5 linked regions of the Homo sapiens genome follow. The protein of the gene in region 1 purifies or fractionates together with the protein of each later gene. This does not show direct contact. Each region holds a gene or a part of one and is shown in the gene's direction. Other genes may lie near its edges. The genes, in order: EIF2A, EIF2AK4, EIF2AK1, WDR4 and CHORDC1.

The links.
Region 2: the proteins of EIF2A (region 1) and EIF2AK4 purify together in Homo sapiens (co-immunoprecipitation; one study listed by IntAct). This does not show direct contact.
Region 3: the proteins of EIF2A (region 1) and EIF2AK1 purify together in Homo sapiens (co-immunoprecipitation; one study listed by IntAct). This does not show direct contact.
Region 4: the proteins of EIF2A (region 1) and WDR4 purify together in Homo sapiens (affinity purification with western blotting; one study listed by BioGRID). This does not show direct contact.
Region 5: the proteins of EIF2A (region 1) and CHORDC1 fractionate together in Homo sapiens (co-fractionation; one large-scale study listed by BioGRID). This does not show direct contact.

What each region holds. Positions count from the first base shown.
Region 1 is NC_000003.12:150,553,283-150,556,801, forward strand, and holds part of EIF2A (eukaryotic translation initiation factor 2A), read left to right. Parts: intron 1-3,519. UniProt on the Homo sapiens protein: Functions in the early steps of protein synthesis of a small number of specific mRNAs. Acts by directing the binding of methionyl-tRNAi to 40S ribosomal subunits.
Region 2 is NC_000015.10:39,937,097-39,940,615, forward strand, and holds part of EIF2AK4 (eIF-2-alpha kinase GCN2), read left to right. Parts: intron 1-2,408; coding exon 2,409-2,521; intron 2,522-3,519. UniProt on the Homo sapiens protein: Metabolic-stress sensing protein kinase that phosphorylates the alpha subunit of eukaryotic translation initiation factor 2 (EIF2S1/eIF-2-alpha) in response to low amino acid availability.
Region 3 is NC_000007.14:6,052,664-6,056,182, reverse strand, and holds part of EIF2AK1 (eukaryotic translation initiation factor 2-alpha kinase 1), read left to right. Parts: intron 1-1,478; coding exon 1,479-1,637; intron 1,638-3,519. UniProt on the Homo sapiens protein: Metabolic-stress sensing protein kinase that phosphorylates the alpha subunit of eukaryotic translation initiation factor 2 (EIF2S1/eIF-2-alpha) in response to various stress conditions.
Region 4 is NC_000021.9:42,855,529-42,859,047, reverse strand, and holds part of WDR4 (tRNA (guanine-N(7)-)-methyltransferase non-catalytic subunit WDR4), read left to right. Parts: intron 1-3,267; coding exon 3,268-3,366; intron 3,367-3,519. UniProt on the Homo sapiens protein: Non-catalytic component of the METTL1-WDR4 methyltransferase complex required for the formation of N(7)-methylguanine in a subset of RNA species, such as tRNAs, mRNAs and microRNAs (miRNAs).
Region 5 is NC_000011.10:90,213,047-90,216,565, reverse strand, and holds part of CHORDC1 (cysteine and histidine-rich domain-containing protein 1), read left to right. Parts: intron 1-1,335; coding exon 1,336-1,392; intron 1,393-2,390; coding exon 2,391-2,548; intron 2,549-3,145; exon of another isoform or gene 3,146-3,210; intron 3,211-3,519. UniProt on the Homo sapiens protein: Regulates centrosome duplication, probably by inhibiting the kinase activity of ROCK2. Proposed to act as co-chaperone for HSP90. May play a role in the regulation of NOD1 via a HSP90 chaperone complex. In vitro, has intrinsic chaperone activity.

The sequences.
Region 1 (3,519 bases):
ATTGCACTCCAGCCTGGGCAAAAAGATGAGACTCCGTCTCAAAAAAAAAAAAAAAAAAAATTGGGAAACTAAAATAAGTGATTCTAGCTTTATATCAGGTTGGTGGCATAACCATGTGAAGACCTGCAAAATTCTTTTTTTTTGAGACTGAGTTTTGCCCTTGTTGCCCAGGCTAGAGTGCAGTGGTGCAATCTCGGCTTAATGCAACCTCTGCCCCCCAGGTTCAAGCGATTCTCCTGCCTCAGCCTCCCAAGTAGGTGGGATTACAGGTGCCTGCCACCATGCCTGGCTAATTTTTTTGTATTTGTAGTAGTGACAGAGTTTCACCGTGTTGGCCAGGCTAGTCTCAAACTCCTGACCTCAGGTGATCCACCTGTCTCATCCTCCCAAAGTGCTGGGATTACAGACGTGAGCCACCATGCCTGGCCTAATAGTTTTCTTTTTAACTGAAAGTTGATATTGTCATTTGAATCTACTATAGGATAGAGTAAATTAATTGTATTAATGTTGTTAGGCACCAAGATTTTTCAGCATTAGAGTGAAAAGATAGACTTGCCTATATCAGTATGAACTCATGATTTCCTTTCATAAAACATTTGCATTTCCTAGTTCTGGCCAATGAAAAGGCCTGGAAGCAGTGATAACACAGTAGCAGTGAATACCCCATCCTCACAGATTGTGATCTCTAAATACAATTCTTCACTAAAAGGAACCACTTCCTTGGAGAAGTGGTCAACTCTAGGTCTGGGACAGAAAATGTACAAGTTGAGGTAGCAACTTTTGTGCCAGAAAGCAAAGCTATAAAAGACTAATGAGATTTTGTTAAAGGGTCGTAGGAAGCAACTTGAAGAGATTCACACCAACCTAAGATGGGAACATTAAGAATTATGAATAGAAAGATAAAGCATGTCAAGTATATAAATGCTCCCCCGAAAAATCCCCCCTCCGTTTAAACCTAACTGGTCAGCATTGGTGGTTGATGGAGTCCTCACTCATTACTTTGAAAATTGATAAATAAAGGGAAGGAGTCAAGCATTTATCTTGCCTTTCTTATACAAACTGTTTCTCAGAGTAACCAAGTGGTTGATGAGAAAAAGAATTTTATAGACGAATTCCAGTTAATAAATGGAGAATGGATGCTGGATCAGACAATTACCATTTTGTAATCCTCAAGAAATGGATCTAGGCCACTGGTTCTCAAACTTTACCAAGCATCAGAATCATCTGAAAAGCTCGTTAAAATCCAGATTGCAGCTCTCTTTCCAAATGTTCGGATTCATTAGATCAGCGGTAGGGCCCAATAATTTGCATTTTTAACAAATTCCCCAGTGATACTGATGCTGCAAATCTGGGGACCCCCCTTTAAGAACCACTGATCTAGGCAGATGATCATCAAAAGATGCTGAAACCTTTAGCTGAACTGTTTGATGACTGTTAATGGGGAACTTTATAATCAGGCTGTTGTCATCTGACTCTACTGACCAATTTTTATTAGGCCCAGTTCTCTAGAACCTTGCTACAGGAAGCATGGGCCCAACCAAGACCAACTATATTGGCATCACTCCTGAGCCAGTACAGAAATGCATCTCAGGCCCTACCCAACTTACTGAATCAGAATCTGTATTTTAGCTAGATCTTCAGATGATTTATATGCACTTTTTTTTTTCCAGAGTCTTGCTCTGCTGCCCAGGCTAGAATGGAGTGGTGTAATCATGGCCCACTGTAGCCTCAATCTCCCAGGCTCAAACAATACTCCTGCCTCAGTATCCCAAGTAGCTGGGACTATAGGCGCATGCCACCATGCCTGGCTAATTTTTGTATGTTTTGTAGAGATGGGGGTCTCACTATGTTGCCCAGGCTGCTCTCCAACTCCTGGGCTCAAGAGATCCAACCGCCTTGGCCTCCCAAAGTGCTGGGATTACAGGCCTCAGCCACCATGCCTGGCCTGTATGCACATTATTTATTTATTTACTTATTTATTTATTTTTTTTGAGATGGAGTTTCACTCTTGTTGCCCAGGCTGGAGTGCAATGGTACAATCTCGGCTCACTGCAACCTCTGCTTCCTGGGTTCAAGCGATTCTCCTGCCTCAGCCTCCCAAGTAGCTGGGATTATAGGCACCTGCTACCACACCTGGCTAAATTTTTTTATTTTTAGTAGAGACGTGGTTTCACCATGTTGGCCAGGCTGGTCTCGAACTTCTGACCTCAGGTGATTCACCCTCCTTGGCCTCCCAAAGTGCTGGGATTACAGGTGTGAGCCACCACACCCGGCCATGTATGCACATTAATGTTTGAGAAGCACTACTCTAGAAAACCCAGTCTGGCTGGGCGCGGTGGCTCATGCCTGTAATCCCAGCGCTTTGGGAGGCCAAGGTGGGTGGATCACTTGAGCCCAGGAGTTCAGGATGAGCCTGGGCAGTATGGCAAAACCCCATATCTATTTAAAAAACAAAAAACAAAAAAAAAACTATGGCAAAGTTATGTGCTACACTTCATTAGGGTATGCAGTCCCAAGGCTGCAGGAGTAGGGGAGAAAGGGAAATGAGACAGGGAAGGAGTTAAAGCAAGTATGATGGGATATACTGAGGTGACCACAAATCCACAAAATATAGCCAACTTGCTTGGTCATGTGTGCAAAATTTTTGTCTCCAGAAAGGCTGTATGGAACATTTGTACTTCAGAACAGTCTGTTGTGTGGAGACAGGGTAAGAAGTTTACTACAGCCTCTTAGCCTGTTTGGGTTGAATCTGAGTGCCAGAGCTCCTCCATGTGCTGCCGCAGTGCATGGTGGAAGCCATGTGGAAGTATGGCCCTTAACTCTGCAGATTCAAAGACAACCAGTGGCGTTAGGAGATGAGGTCTCTTCATTGAATAGTTGAGGCGTGGCAGCAGGAAGAGTTAGGTAGATACAAGGAGGCACATGACTGAATCCAGTACAATCTCAGTATCACTAAGAGTAGAACAGAGAGATATTTATGTGTCTCCTGGTGAGTTATTATACAGTAGGAACTGTGCTGTACATATCTTCTACGAAAGTTAAAAAAACTTCAAACTCAGAATTTAGTCAGTCTTTTACATGAGTAGTTCTCAAATGTGGCTGCACAATAGAATGACCTGGGGAGCTGTTAAAAAACCCAGATATCCAATCCAAGTATTGGGTATTAAATGATATTAAGAAGTTAATTTTGTGAGATGAAGTGGCATGGTGGTGATTATGTTTTTAAAAAAATATACTCACTGGTTAGAGATGCATAATCAAGTATAGAGCAATATGATAATGACATCTAGTTTTTGCGTTGGAATGTTGTGGCATGAAAGATAAAAGTGGGGAATAGATAAAATTGGCTCTGAGTTAATAGTTACTTAAGCTTGATGATGAGTGCATAGGTGGATTATCATACTTTTTCTCTATTTTTTGTGTATGTTTGAAATTTTTCATTCAAAAAATTATACCAGAAGGAAAGAGGCAAAATTTCCCAATTGCCAAGACCAAGAAAATAATCGAATTCTGGATTCT
Region 2 (3,519 bases), on another chromosome or scaffold:
AATTTATAGATAGTTACAAATTACTAACTTATTTTGGCTAGCTTTCCACAGCAGCAAAAGGTCTGCTCATTTATAATTTGATAGCTTTTGGAAACATCCCTCCAAAAAACTTGCTTCAATCCCTGGATCCCCCAGTAGTGTATGGTGGTGTTTGTTTTCCTTTATCTTCAACAATACTATATATGTTAGACTTTTTCATCTTTGCCACATAAATGAAACATATCTCATTTTAATTTTTATTTATTTATAAATTATCTAGAACACCTTTGTTTACAAACCATTGATTTTTCTTTTTCTGTGAACTGCTCATACTCTGGTTTATTTTTCTACTCTGTGGTCCATTTTCTTGTTTATTTGTAAGAGCTAAATATCTTAAGAAAACTAGCATTTTGGGTCATATAATGCATATATTTTTCTCCTAATTATATGCATTTATTTACGTAATTTATGTGATTTAAAAAATGTTGATAGAGTCAAAATGACCTTTTTTTTCTTTTATGGTCCCTGTGGGTTTTTTTTCCCCCTCTGTTCCAATGTTACTAAAAACCAAATTCGTCAAAGTTTACTTTTAACTTGTTCATGACTTCGTTTTTAAATTTTCATCAAATAAAGATATAAGTAGGTTTTTTTTTTTAAGTTCTTCGTTCCATCAAAGTACGGGCCTAGGCCACCTCCCCGTGTGCATCCCTCCTCCTCCAGCTAGGCAGCTAGACAAATATAGGCAATTGAATTTTTCAGTGTCTTCCACTCATTTGAAATGCCATTCCTACAAGCCCAGTGCCTGGTAAAACAAACAAAAAACTTTCAAAAATTGTTACTGAATGAAATAATTCTCAAATGTATTTCAAGTCTCTTTTTTTCCTTGCCTGGAATGCTTGGTCTCTTGGCTTGTCTCAGCTTCAATGCTACATCCTCAGATAGTTCTTCTTTGATAACCACATTTAAGTATATACCCTCACACCCCAAGTCGTTTGTTAAGGAGAGCACCACGTCATCTCTTCAACGGCACTCTCTAAGCTTGTACTTATGTGTTTATTATGTTTGTTTTCCCCCACCAGACTGAAGTTCCATGAGAGCTGGAACCATATCTGTGTTCTCACCTCCGTGGACTAAGCACAGTGCCTGACACAGAGTCAGTGCTTAGCAAATATGGGTGATGGATGTGTGATGGGTGAATGAGTGGATGAAAGACCTGTGGACCAAAGAGTGCTTAACCCTTCCCCAGACCACATTCGCAGAATTATGCTTTATGGAAGGACCCACACATTTATCAAGGATTATTATAAAGCCATATAAGAACTGATCTTACAAATTTTGTACACATAGTAGAAGAGTACAGTGTTTATTATATGGTACTCCTTGTAAGGTTCACGTTATAAATTTCTGTTAGAATTTAGTATTATAAGTACTTTGCTTCCCTAAAATAATTTTTAGGCTTTCTCTTTTCTGATGATACCACGTTTCTCTTTTTGCCCTGCCTGCCAGGACATTCAGAGAAAAAAATCAAGGCTCAATCCCAGCAACTTAGGATGGCATAATAAAAGAGTGGCTTATGGGAGGAGACAGGGTTTGGAGTTAAGGCTGGGTTTGAATCCCAGCTCTGTCCCTGTGTATCTGTAGGCAAGAATGTAAAACTCCCTGAGCCTGAGCTTCTGTATCTGTAAAATGGAGATGACACCTGCCTTGCAAAGTTGGTAAGGTGCCTGGACCATGGGAGCGCTCAGCCATTGTTTTTTCTCTCAGACTCCCCTTGTTCATTATATACATATAATATGAACTACTTCAAATCCACTTTGGAAAAAGTGTATCTAAATTGAAGAACAAGGGTATTTTGCGATTTGGTGAAAAGTAGTTGATTGAAAACATATGCAATTCTCTCCTTGTCAAGGGTTTTCATTTGTTAATATCTCAGTATTCAGATCTCAATTCAAATCTCCCCTGCTCGCAGAGTCCTTCACTGACCTACCTGTCCAGATACCTTCTCCTCGCCCACCACTATGTCCCTCTACTCTGCTTTGTTTTCTTTACAGCACTCATCACTATTTGAAATCACTCGTCTTCTAGTTTGTATCAGCTGGTTGGGACTGTGTCTGTCTAAATTTACCCCTGCACTCCCAGCTTCCAGGAGAGCACCCAGGCATAATAACTCAGTAACATCTGAACGAATGGAAGCTGAGTGGAACATTTTGGTTCATTCCTTAGATAACTTAAAAAAGGAAAGTGCATTTTCACTGGCTTAGGTTTTGTTTTTAAATCATGCTTTTGGAAAGTATGCCAGATTATCTATTTAAAATATAATTACAAATATTTTTAAAGTAGAACTTTTGATCTAAAATGATCATTATCTTAATCATTAATGATTGGCTCTACAGCTTTGAAAAAAATTTTTTTTGTTTTTCCTCTTTTAGGTCAAAGAGCCCCCTGAAATCAATTTAGTTTTGTACCCTCAAGGCCTAACTGGTGAAGAAGTATATGTAAAAGTGGATTTGAGGGTTAAATGCCCACCTACCTATCCAGATGTGTGAGTACATTTATAAATAGCTTTGACGTGGTTTCAGTTTTCTGTTTTGACAACATAGAAACAGATTGAAATTCGTAGTATTTTCTCCTTCCTGCTCCCATTCCACATAAAATTTCATTTCCTCTATTTCAACAAAACTACATCAGCAATAGATGTTTTCATGAAACCTGTCTCATTTTAAGCCTGTTCATAGTTATAGAATTGTCACTACAGATACTTATATTTGCCTAGTGACTATTTTGCTTCCTCTGATGTGTTAACTTTTGTTTATTTATTTCTTCATAAGTTAGGAAGAGGAAAATTTGGAAGAAAACAATAAAGGCATGGTGACTGTTGAAAGCCCTTGCATAGTTAGAGTGTGGCTGGTATTAGAAATTCAGCAAGTCTGTGCCTCAGATGACCTTTCACTGCCTAGAGTGAGGGAGAGTATTTGGATCTGTCCTGCCTCTCAATGGGGCACTCTGGCGAGTGTCCATTGTGCAGGGCTGTGCTGTGCACTGCAGTACGTTTAGCATCCCTGGCCCCCACCTACCAATGCCACGAGTGTCCTCCAGGCATTGAAACAACCAAATAACCTACATATTTCCAGACTCCCTCTGAAGGTGATGTCACCTCTGGTTGAGAAAAACTAGTTAGAGCCAAAGTGTTAGCCATCAGCACTTAAGCATGTCTATTTGGTGTAATCTTTCCCCACCCATCCCACATGGAAAGGCAGGTTGGCCTGGATGGCGTTAAGTAGTTTGAAATTATTGTATGGGGAACCAGTGAAGGTTTTTGAGATGGAAAGGGACAAGTAAAAGGAAACTCTGCTTTACACAGTGGGTGGTAAATTTATGGAATTTATTATCCTAAGAAGTGATAGGGAGGATATGAAAAGACAGATAAGTCAAAATTGAGCTCCTTGAAGTCAGTAACCATTCTTGGCCCCCAAAACTGTCCTGAGAGTATTATAGTAGGTATACTATACATACTATAAAAATATTAATTAACGAAACGTT
Region 3 (3,519 bases), on another chromosome or scaffold:
TAGCTGGGATCACAGGTGCACACCACCACGCTCACCTAATTTTTGTATTTTTAGTAGAGACGGTGTTTCACCGTGTTGGCCAGGCTGGTCCTGAGCTCCTGACCTCAGGTGATCTGCTTGCCTCGGCCTCTCTAAGTGCTGGAATTACAGATGTGAGCCACCACACCCAGCTAGTTTTTTTTTTTTTTTTTTTTTTTTTTGAGACAGAGTTTCACTTTGTTGCCCAGGCTGGAGTGCAATGGCACGATCTCAGCTCATCTCAACCTCTGCCTCCTGGGTTTAAGGGATTCTCCTGCCTCAGCCTCCTGAGTGGCTAGGATTGATTACAGGCATGCGCCACCACGCCTGGCTAATTTTGTTTTTTCGTAGAGACAGGGTTTCTCCATGTTGGCCAGGCTGGTCTCGAACTCCTGACCTTAGGTGATCTGCCTGCCTCGGCCTCTCAAAGTGCTGGGATTACAGGCATGAGCCACTGTGCCCAGCTAGGTTTTTTTTTTTTTTTTTTTACCTGTTTAGTCATGTCTTAAATAAACAGTAAGTGAGAACTTAACGACCTTCAGCCTTAGTGCCAACTCGTCTGTCTGCATGGTCTCATACAGTGCAAAGAGGATGGGGTTCGGGAGTCAGTCTGATCTGCCTTGTTCACTGGTTCCTCAGCCTCTCTGAGATCAGTGTTTTCATCTGTAAAATGAGGATGAACACTTACCTTATATTATTTTTTGAGCATTGAAGGAGATTGTACATGTAGATAAGTAGCACACGCTCATCGAGAAAAGTTTCCATTTTTCCTATCTTTCCCTCTGTCATCTGCCCAACTTCTTTTTTTTTTTTTTTTTTTTTGAGACGGAGTTTCGCTCTTGTTGCCAAGGCTGGAATGCAATGGTTGATCTCGGCTCACCGCAACTTCTGCCTCCCAGGTTCAAGCTATTTTCCTGCCTCAGCCTCCTGAGTAGCTGGGATTACAGGCGCCTGCCACCACTGCCCGGCTAATTTTGTATTTTTAGTAGAGATGGTGTTGCTCCATGTTGGTCAGGCTGGTCTCAAACTCCTGACCTCAGGTGATCCACTGGCCTCAGCCTCCCAAAGTGCTGGGATTACAGGCATGAACAACCGCGCCCGGCCATCCTCTGCCTAACTTCTTTCTTTATGCCTGGGTCTTGGCTGTCTTCTCAAAGGAAGGAAGCCATCCTAGTCCCACTTCCTTGCGTATTGATTTATTTGTACTATTGGACACATCAGAAAACTGTTTCTCCTCTGTCTCACGGCATCTTTCTGCTGATCCTCCAGCTTCCAGGATTCAGCTCCAAATTCACTTCCAGAAAGCCTTTCTTGATTAACCCAACTCAGCATAACTATTCTTTTGGTTTTTATCTGCTTACATTTAAATATTTCATGTTTCATTAATTAGAATATACGGTTTTGTCATTATGAGACAGGTTTACCATTAATTTAAAAATATTTTCCTTTTTAATTTTTAGAATCTGATGTTCCAGCAGAAATCCAGGTGTTAAAAGAACCCCTACAACAGCCAACCTTCCCTTTTGCAGTTGCAAACCAACTCTTGCTGGTTTCTTTGCTGGAGCACTTGAGCCACGTGCATGAACCAAACCCACTTCGTTCAAGACAGGTGTTTAAGCGTAAGTAAGAATAAATGAATCTTGCTAAATAAAGCTTGTAAAGGCTGGGCTCCGTGGTTCATGCCTGTAATCCCAGCACTTTGGGAGGCTGAGGTGGGCGGATCACCCGAGGTCCGGAGATCGAGATCGGTTTGGCTAACATGACGAAACCCCCTCTTTACTCAAAATATGGAAATTAGCCGGGTGTTGTGGCAGGCACCTGTAACCCCAGCTACTCGGGAGGCTGAGGCGGAGAATCAGTTGAACTGGGGAGGTGGAGGTTGCAGTGAGCCGAGATAGCGCCACTGCACTCCAGCCTGGGTGAAAGAGTGAGACTGTCTCAAAAATAAATAAATAAAGCTTGTAAAAATACTGTGTTGCTGTTCTCACTTATTCATGGGAGGTAAAAATTAAAACAATTGAACTAATGGAGATAGAGTAGAATGATGGTTCCCAGAGGCTGGGAGGATAGTGGAGGATGGTTAATGGGTACAAAAATATAGTTAGAATAAATTGGATCTAGTATTTGATAGCACAGCAGAGTGACTACAGTCAACAATAATTTATTGTACATTTAAAAAATAATAAAAAAGATGGCCAGGTGCAGTGGCTCATGCCTGTAATCCCAGCACTTTGGGAGGCCAAGGTGGGTGAATCACTTGAGGTCAGGAGTTTGAGACCAGCCTGACCAACATGGTGAAATCCCATCTCTATTAAAAAAAAAATGCAAAACTACCCAGGCGTAATGGCACATGGCTGTAATCTCAGCTACTTGGGAGGCTGAGGTAGGAGAATTGCTTGAACCCGGGTGGCGGAGGTTGCAGTGAGCCGAGATCACGCCACTGCACTCCAGCCTGGGCAACAAGAGCTAAAGTCCATCTCAAAAAAAAAAAAAAAAAGAATGGGCTGGGCGCGGTGGCTCACGCCTGTAATCCCAGCACTTTGGGAGACTGAGGCAGGTGGATCATGAGGTCAAGAGATCGAGACCATCCTGGCTAACATGGTGAAACCCTGTCTCTACTAAAAATACAAAAATTAGCTGGGCATGGTGGCGGGCACCTGTAATCCCAGCTGTAATTTGGGAGGCTGAGGCTGGAAAATCATTTGAACCTGGGAGGCGGAGGTTGCAGTGAGCTGAGATCGCGCCATTGCACACCAGCCTGGCGACAGAGCAAGACTCAGTCTCAACAAAATAAAAATAACGAAAAGAATATAATTGGATTGTTTGTAACACAAAGAAGGGATAAATGCTTTAGATGATGGATACCCCATTTATCCTGATGTGATTATTACACATCACATGTCTGTATCAAAATATCTCATGTACCCCCATAAATATATACATCTACCATATACTCACAAAAATTAAAAATACAAAATAAAAATATGTTGTTTAATGCTGTGAGTCTGGAAAGCGTCTGGTATACAAAAATTGGAGTGAAATAAATATTAATGATTTCCCTACTTCAATTCAGCTTACATTTTTCTTTGAGTAATTCCTTACAAATATAACTGTGGATCCCATAATTGCATAAAATTGAATAAATGAAATATAGTTCTTTTGCATCTATACTATGATAATGCTCACAATTTTTTTTTTTCTCGAGATGGAGTCTCACTCTGTTGCCCAGGCTGGAGTGCATTGGCGCGATTTCCGCTCACTGCAATCTCCGCCCCCCGGGTTCAAGTGATTCTCCTGCCTCACCCTCCCGAGTAGCTGGGGTAGGCACGTGCCACCATGCCCGGGTAATTTTTGTATTTTTAATAGAGACGGGGTTTCACCATGTTGTTCAGGCTGGTCTCGAACTCCTGACCTGGTGATCCACCCGCCTCGGCCTTCAGTGTGCTTTGATCACTCCTGTGAGTAACCAGTGTGCTCCAGTCTGGGTGACATAGTAAGACT
Region 4 (3,519 bases), on another chromosome or scaffold:
GACGTGTTTTCTCTAAGGAATGTGTTAGAAGGATTGTTAGTGATTTTGCCAAAGTGAGGGCCTTGGATTCCTCACAGGGTCTGATTCTGTCCTCTTGCGGAATTGTTGCCCGCACACCACCACCTTCCTCTTCGCTGTCCTTCCCTGTGTTGTCTGTGTTGGTCCTTTGTGTGGTGTGGCAGGATGGCTGATGGACCTTCTGGCCGCTTCTATGTTTCTTCTCTGATTGGGCTTCATTCACAGCCTCCTGTTCCTGCTCTTCAAATTAACACACAGCCACGCGACCTGAGAGAAGAAGAAAAGTGTGGCCATAATCTCCAGAGGGTCAGGGTCAGGGTCAGGCTTCGTCAGCGGTTTGTTGTGCACCTTCCAGTCTTTTTCATAATATGAGGAAAATCTTCCACGGGCAGAGAAGCCTCCCCAGGCCCCATCTGTCCCTCATGGCTTACTGCTTTGTTTGAGTGGAACACGTCATCTGGTAGCTGCCAAAAGGCGCGAGGAGGGTCAGTGTTTTCTGACTTTGCTTTTCTGGAAATACCTTTAATCTCCTTTGAGGCCTGGTTGTTAGTTTGGCGTAGAAGTCCTGGTTGAAACGGTTTCCCTCGGAGCTTGGGAGGCCTTGCACAGTGTGCTCTCCAGCTGGTTGCTCCTGTGGGTTTTCCCGCGCGCTTCCTGTAGAAACCTGCAGCTGTCTGCCGTGGGTCCGTGGGGTGACAGCTGGGCTCTCCTTCTGCCTGGAGGACTTTCTCTGCTCCAGTGTGCGATGTGAAAGCCACTGAGGTGACTTGGTGGGCCCCAGAGGGGAGTTGGCCACACAGCCAGTGATTTTCAGTGTCCTCCGACCTGGGGCATTTTCTTACATGATTACCTTCTGTTCTCTACCCCTGCCTCTTGCTCACTTTTTCTAAAGCTTGTGTTAGTTGAACCACTTTAATGCTCTGATTCTTATTTTTTTTGAGACAGAGTCTTGCTCTGTCTCCCAGTCTGGAGTGCAGTGGCGTGATCTCGGTTCACTGCAGCCTCTGCCTCCCGGGCTCAAGCAATCCTCCCACCTCAGGCCTCCCGAGTAGCTAGTATTACAGGCACACACCACCATGCCCCGCTAATTTTTTATACTTTTGTAGTGATGGGGTTTTGCCAGCTTGGCCAGGCTGGTCTCAAACTTTTGACCTCAAGCGATCCACCCACTTCCGCCCACTGGGATTATAGGCGAGAGCCACCATGCTGGGCCATAATTCTCTGTTTTTTTTTCTTTCCTGTTCAATCTCGTATTTCTACTCCTTTAGGAATAGTCTTACTTCTTGGGAGATTGCCTCAACTTTACTTTCCAGCCTTCTGTGGAGACTTGAGTTTTATTAGGATTATTTTGAATCTTTAGTTCTTTCTTGCCCTCGGCACGTTCTTTTTTGCAGCCACCCATTCTCGGATAGTGCACGTGTCTCTTATCTCACTGAGATGAGCGTGGACTTTTCTTTCTTCAATTTCTTCCTGGCCTTGTGTTTGATTGCCTTCTCTGGAGTGTGTTGTCTGCCTTTCTCATTGGAGGTTTTCCTCGGATGTCTGGCGATGCCATCTGCCTGTGTGTGATGGGAGTCAGCACCAGCCGGCCTCAGAGGCTGGGTGTGTGCACCCAGGGTGGGGCCCGAGGGGCTTCAGAGCAGGTGTCTGTGGGCAGCAGCCCCTTGCCTGTGGACTCCGTAGAACGTGTGGGTCAGTCGGTCTCTTCTGGGTGGTCAGTGTCCCGGCCTTCACTCTTGCCCAGGTCTGTCCCCTGGGGCTCTGGGAGGTGAGTGCGAAGGGGCTAGGTGACTCTCTTCTCAGTGAGTATTTGGCATCCCCGAGACAGGGGCCCCTCGGCTCCGTTTCCCCAGAGCCTTCTGCTGGCCTGGAGTTTGGGGCTGAGGATGCATCAGGGAGGTCCCGTTTCTCTTTGTAAAGACATTTGACAGCTCCCCTCACCACCTTGGTCTTCAGGCTGCCTGGCCCGGTTTGGTCTTTGGCAGGTCCTGGCACCTCTCGGGCTTCTCTGTGGCTGGTGCATTTGTTCCCTGGCCTCCAGCCCCCAGGTTTCCTTGCTGTCTCTCCGCGGCTGCCTTCTCTTCTTGCCTGTTGTCTTTGTCTTAGTGGGTTCATGGTTATTAAACATCTTTTTCTTGTCTTCGTAGAGAGGTTTGGGGGTGAGTGAAATGCCTGTAGATGTGTGTGTTGGTCTCCATGTTTATCTGCCACATTTGTAGAAAGGTGTGTGTGTGTGCGTGTGTATGTGCATGCGTGTGTGTGTGCATTCATACATCCACTCTTACCTCGGCACCCAGAGGATATGCATCTACTGTTAGCTGTTTGGGGTATTTACTTTTCATCTTTTTCATTTAGTCATTTAAAAATACTTACAAATAGTGCACAGACACTCTCTCATTAGATTTAATGAGTATTGATTTATTTCTCTCCACTGAATTAGTGCTGTAATGAATTTTTTTTAAGCCAGGTATGGTGGCTCATGCCTGTAGTCCCAGCTACTCGGAGGCTGAGGCGGGAGGATTGCCTGGGCCTGGGAGTCAGAGGCTGCAGTGAGCCAGGAGCAAGCCTGTGAATAGCCACTGCAGTGCAGTGGGCAGTGTGGAATAGACCCCATTTCAATTAAACAACAAAAAAATAACAACAGATAAAACCAAGAAAAAAAAGAGAAACGCTTTTTTCCATTGATGATGGTTTTAGAGCGTGGAGCCTCTTGGTTCCTGTGTCGGCTTCCTGAAGGGTTGTACCAGTTGTCGTGGGACGGTTGCTGATGGCCATGTCCTTCCTGTCATTCTTAGTGAAGTGGAGCAGTGGCCACGAGCTCATGAGCCCACACGTGTCTCCCCGTGGGAATGCATGATTGCTGAAGTGTCTGCGCAGACCTGTGTGCATGCCCGTGTCTATGCCCGGCCCGGGCACAGCAGATGTGGTCTGGCCTCCTGGCGGATGACAACCTGGCCATCTAGCGGCCTTGGCTTATTTTGCTAGGATCTGCCTCATTGGCTTTGTCATCTGCCTGGGCATATTGGCACTCGAGAAACAGGGAATCGGTCACCTTCCGTTCCCCACCGTTGTCCTTGATGATTTGCATGAGCGATTTACACAGTCAGAGCAGAGAGCCTTTAATTCCTGAGGGTGGGTGGCATGGCTGTCACGGAGTGGAACCCCGACCACACGCAGCTGTCCTCTCTGTCACCCTACCTGACGGAAGCCCCACAACCATGTGCTAACCTGTGTGTTTGGTTTGTGCAGGACGGCACCCTGAGGCTCTGGGAGTACAGGAGCGGCCGCCAGCTGCACTGCTGTCACCTGGCCAGTCTGCAGGAGCTGGTGGACCCCCAGGCCCCCCAGGTAGCTGCTTCTGTTCACTCCTGGGCGACTGAGTGCTTGTAGACACCGGCAGTCGCCTGACTTGAGTGGAAAAGTCACTTCGCCGTTGGAAACGTTTGCTCTCAATGCCAGACTTCCTCCTGTGTGAGGGAAATCTCGTATTTCAAATTCTGA
Region 5 (3,519 bases), on another chromosome or scaffold:
CATTTCTTAAAGTCCTAGACTTTCCAAGATTATTGGATTTCACAGTCCAGAAGATTTCAGACAAAATGCGTATACATCAATACAGGGATACTAGTTGACCAAGTAAGAAGTTAAACATTGCATTGACAAAAGAAATACTATTTTAATATTAGAAGGGGCATATTCAGAGAAAAGGACAATCTTGCTGAAAAAAGACAACTAGCAACCTTATATTCACATAACTTAAATTTATCTTTCCTTTTCTCATTGTACTGAAGACTAGCATAGAATCCAGATTGGCATTTGGGAACAGCTGGCCTGTATTGTATTTTACATGTGTGTATCACAGTATCTGACATAATTTAGTACATGATTAAGACAGTAAAACTTTTTCTCTTATAGAATAACTTTTCTGTTGACTATATTATTGATGCTATTTAAACCCTATATTTAAGGTTGTAGTAATTGATCTACATCTCAATTCGGAGTAAAAGATAATTAAATTTCAAATTAAAGGAAAATTTGAATTATAGGATATTTGAAATTACCTTTAAAGAAAAAGAACCTACAGGTGCATATAATGAGAAAAATCACTACCATATTTTTATGCAGTCTTTTGAAAATCAGCGAGGTCCAGGCGGATGTGTGCAAAGTTGCATCTTAATCTGAATTTAGTCCCAAATCTTAATCTGAAGTTCCAAGTTTTGAGATTTTGCATTTTTGTTTCCCTATGCTCTATAAACATTGGAATTTAGAGATAATTATTAAAGCCATTTTTTGGTAAACTACTTGATAGTTTGTTCAAAAATCACAAATACTAATAGTTTCTCTGTCTTTATGCTTCTCACTGAAAAGATCACCTTCAAAGGCTTAATAGTGCTTTAGCTGCTGTGTTAATTAATCTTTGTTGTTCTGAAAATAGAATGCTTATTGTGAAATTAAAATTAACTAAAGATAGTTACTATCTTTAACTTAATAGATTTTAAAAGTAAAATACCTATACTTATTTTGAATATTCTTTAAATATGATAGTTTTAGGAATTATAACATGTTTTTCTTCTAAAAAAAAAGCAGACACGATTGTTGAAAAGAGAAACAGTTTTTGTTTTATAAAGGTGCTTCCCTTGATGATAGGGCATAGCACAAATCACTTTAACATTGGTTAATTGGCTTTTTAAAAATCAAAGATTAATATTCATTTTACTTGATTAGGTGAATTATATGCAACACTGAAATTTTGCACTCTATACGCAAGTTACTGCAGGATTCAAGTAGATAAGTGCAAGTAGAGTGTTTTAGTGGGTCGTGTTTCTCATGCAAATAGAGTTTTTAGTTTCCTTCTCTTGTTTTTCATAGGGTTGGTCTTGCTGTAAGAGAAGAACAACTGATTTTTCTGATTTCTTAAGCATTGTAGTAAGTACTAATTATTTTTTCTAGATTATCTTCCTAAAAATACATGTTATAGAAAGCTTCAGATTTGAGGAGTCTGATTTCTGATATAGATTGATTGGTCTTCATCAACTTGCAGATAACACCTTTCAAAAAGCAGCTCATCTCCCTTCCACAGCTTGTAAAATAAAGAATCTGTTTTGGAAATTAACGTTTTAAGGTATCAGTTACCTGCTTATCATTTTAGGTTTGTTCTTTCTGTTATGTTGAAAGAACATCAAGGAGAAAGTGGTAAGCAACAATTTAAAGCCTTTTCAGTTAGGAACGATAAAGTTTTATCTAAGATGCTGTTGAAATATTTTACATACCACTTTTATATAAAACCACTTTATATACCACTAAGAAAACTAAAGCTACTAACAAACTGATAATGCTATTGATTGTATCATTTCAGAGGTGTTAAAGAGTATGTATAATTCAGTAGAATGTAGTAGAAAAGTAGCTAACGTTTGTTGAATGTTATCACCTGCCAAATGTGCCAGGCATTTTATTATTTAACTCTCTCAGAAAATATCTTACCTGACATTACCTCCATTTTACAAATGAGGAGATGGAGGTTTAAAAAGATTATCTTGCTTAAGGTCATATAACTAATAAGTATGTTGAGAACTAGGTCTCAAATTGAGGCCTTTCGAGTAACAGATTTTTCTGTATAACTATTTTTTACAGTTCTTTGTGAGATTCTCCAGAATTCTTCTGTAAACAAGAGGTTTATGCCATATTTTTAATAGAATAAGTAGATGTTTATGAAGTGTAATTCAAAGACTTTTTAAAAAAGCCGTCATTCAGAGATTCAGCAAATATGGCAAATTTGGAGTTCTGTTTTTAATTTCTTAAAATCAATGTATTGAAACTGGAGAAAACATGAAATAGAATCACTATCAATAAAGAACTGAAAAGATAATATTTCTATCATGAAATGTAAAATAGATAGCTCTTAATGAATTATCTTTCACTAACAGGGCTGTACAAAAGGTAGACATAATAGTGAGAAGCCACCTGAGCCAGTCAAACCTGAAGTCAAGACTACTGAGAAGAAGGAGCTATGTGAATTAAAACCCAAATTTCAGGAACACATCATTCAAGCCCCTAAGCCAGTAGAAGCAATAAAAAGACCAAGGTATACTTTATACAGTTACATATTTTTGTCACACTTGAATAGTAGCACTTGTGCATGGTACTTTCCTTTATGATTTAGCATGATACCATTTGTAGCTACTATGTAGGCCACCAAGCTTTGAACCATTTGGTTTCTCCCTTAAATCTGCCTTAAATTTTTATTTCTCTTCAACTTGAGAGCATGTACACAATATAACTACATAACAGATTTGCATATTGTACTGTCATAATTACAGGGACATGTATCATCAGGGTAGGGAAGTCACATTTTTCTTGTGCCTTAGAGTGCATCTTTTTCACTGTGGCATGGTAAAATTCTTTGAAGCAGTTTTCCTTTTCATGGCATGAGTTTGAAGTAGAAAATAATGCAGAGGCCTAATCATCCATCTTTACTTTCAGATGCCTGAAAACTACCGTTAATCTCATTACTACTGGTCAATTTTTAATGCATTTGATTTAGATGACATATTTGTGAAAGTAGTCTTAAAAAAGCGTTTGCTCATTGTGCAATAGAGTTGTACAGATTCTTCATACTTGCCTTCTGATAACCAGACTCTGTATTCCCACACATGTATATTGAGTACCTTTGTTGAACCAGGTCTTCTTCGTGCTACACTTGAGTACTAAATTGTTTTAGAAGCAAACTACAGGACTTAAAAAAAGGTGATTTTTTTTTTTTTTTTTGGCTGCAAGTAGGCACTTATTGTAATTTTTATTCATGCTATGAACTCATGATTTTCCCTTTATTCTCCTTTGATCCTACTTAAATAAATTTATAGAGTATTGAATAATATAGAACCAAGATAAGAACCCTAAGAGACTTTAGATGTTTATTTGTTCATTAGCACTCTGAGTACAGATTATTGCTAAGGAAACTACTCAGGATGATTTTATTCTCTCTCCATCTTCATAGTTAGAGGAGACCATTGAATGCTTTGGCCAGTTTAGCAGTTAGAAAAATAATTGGGAAAA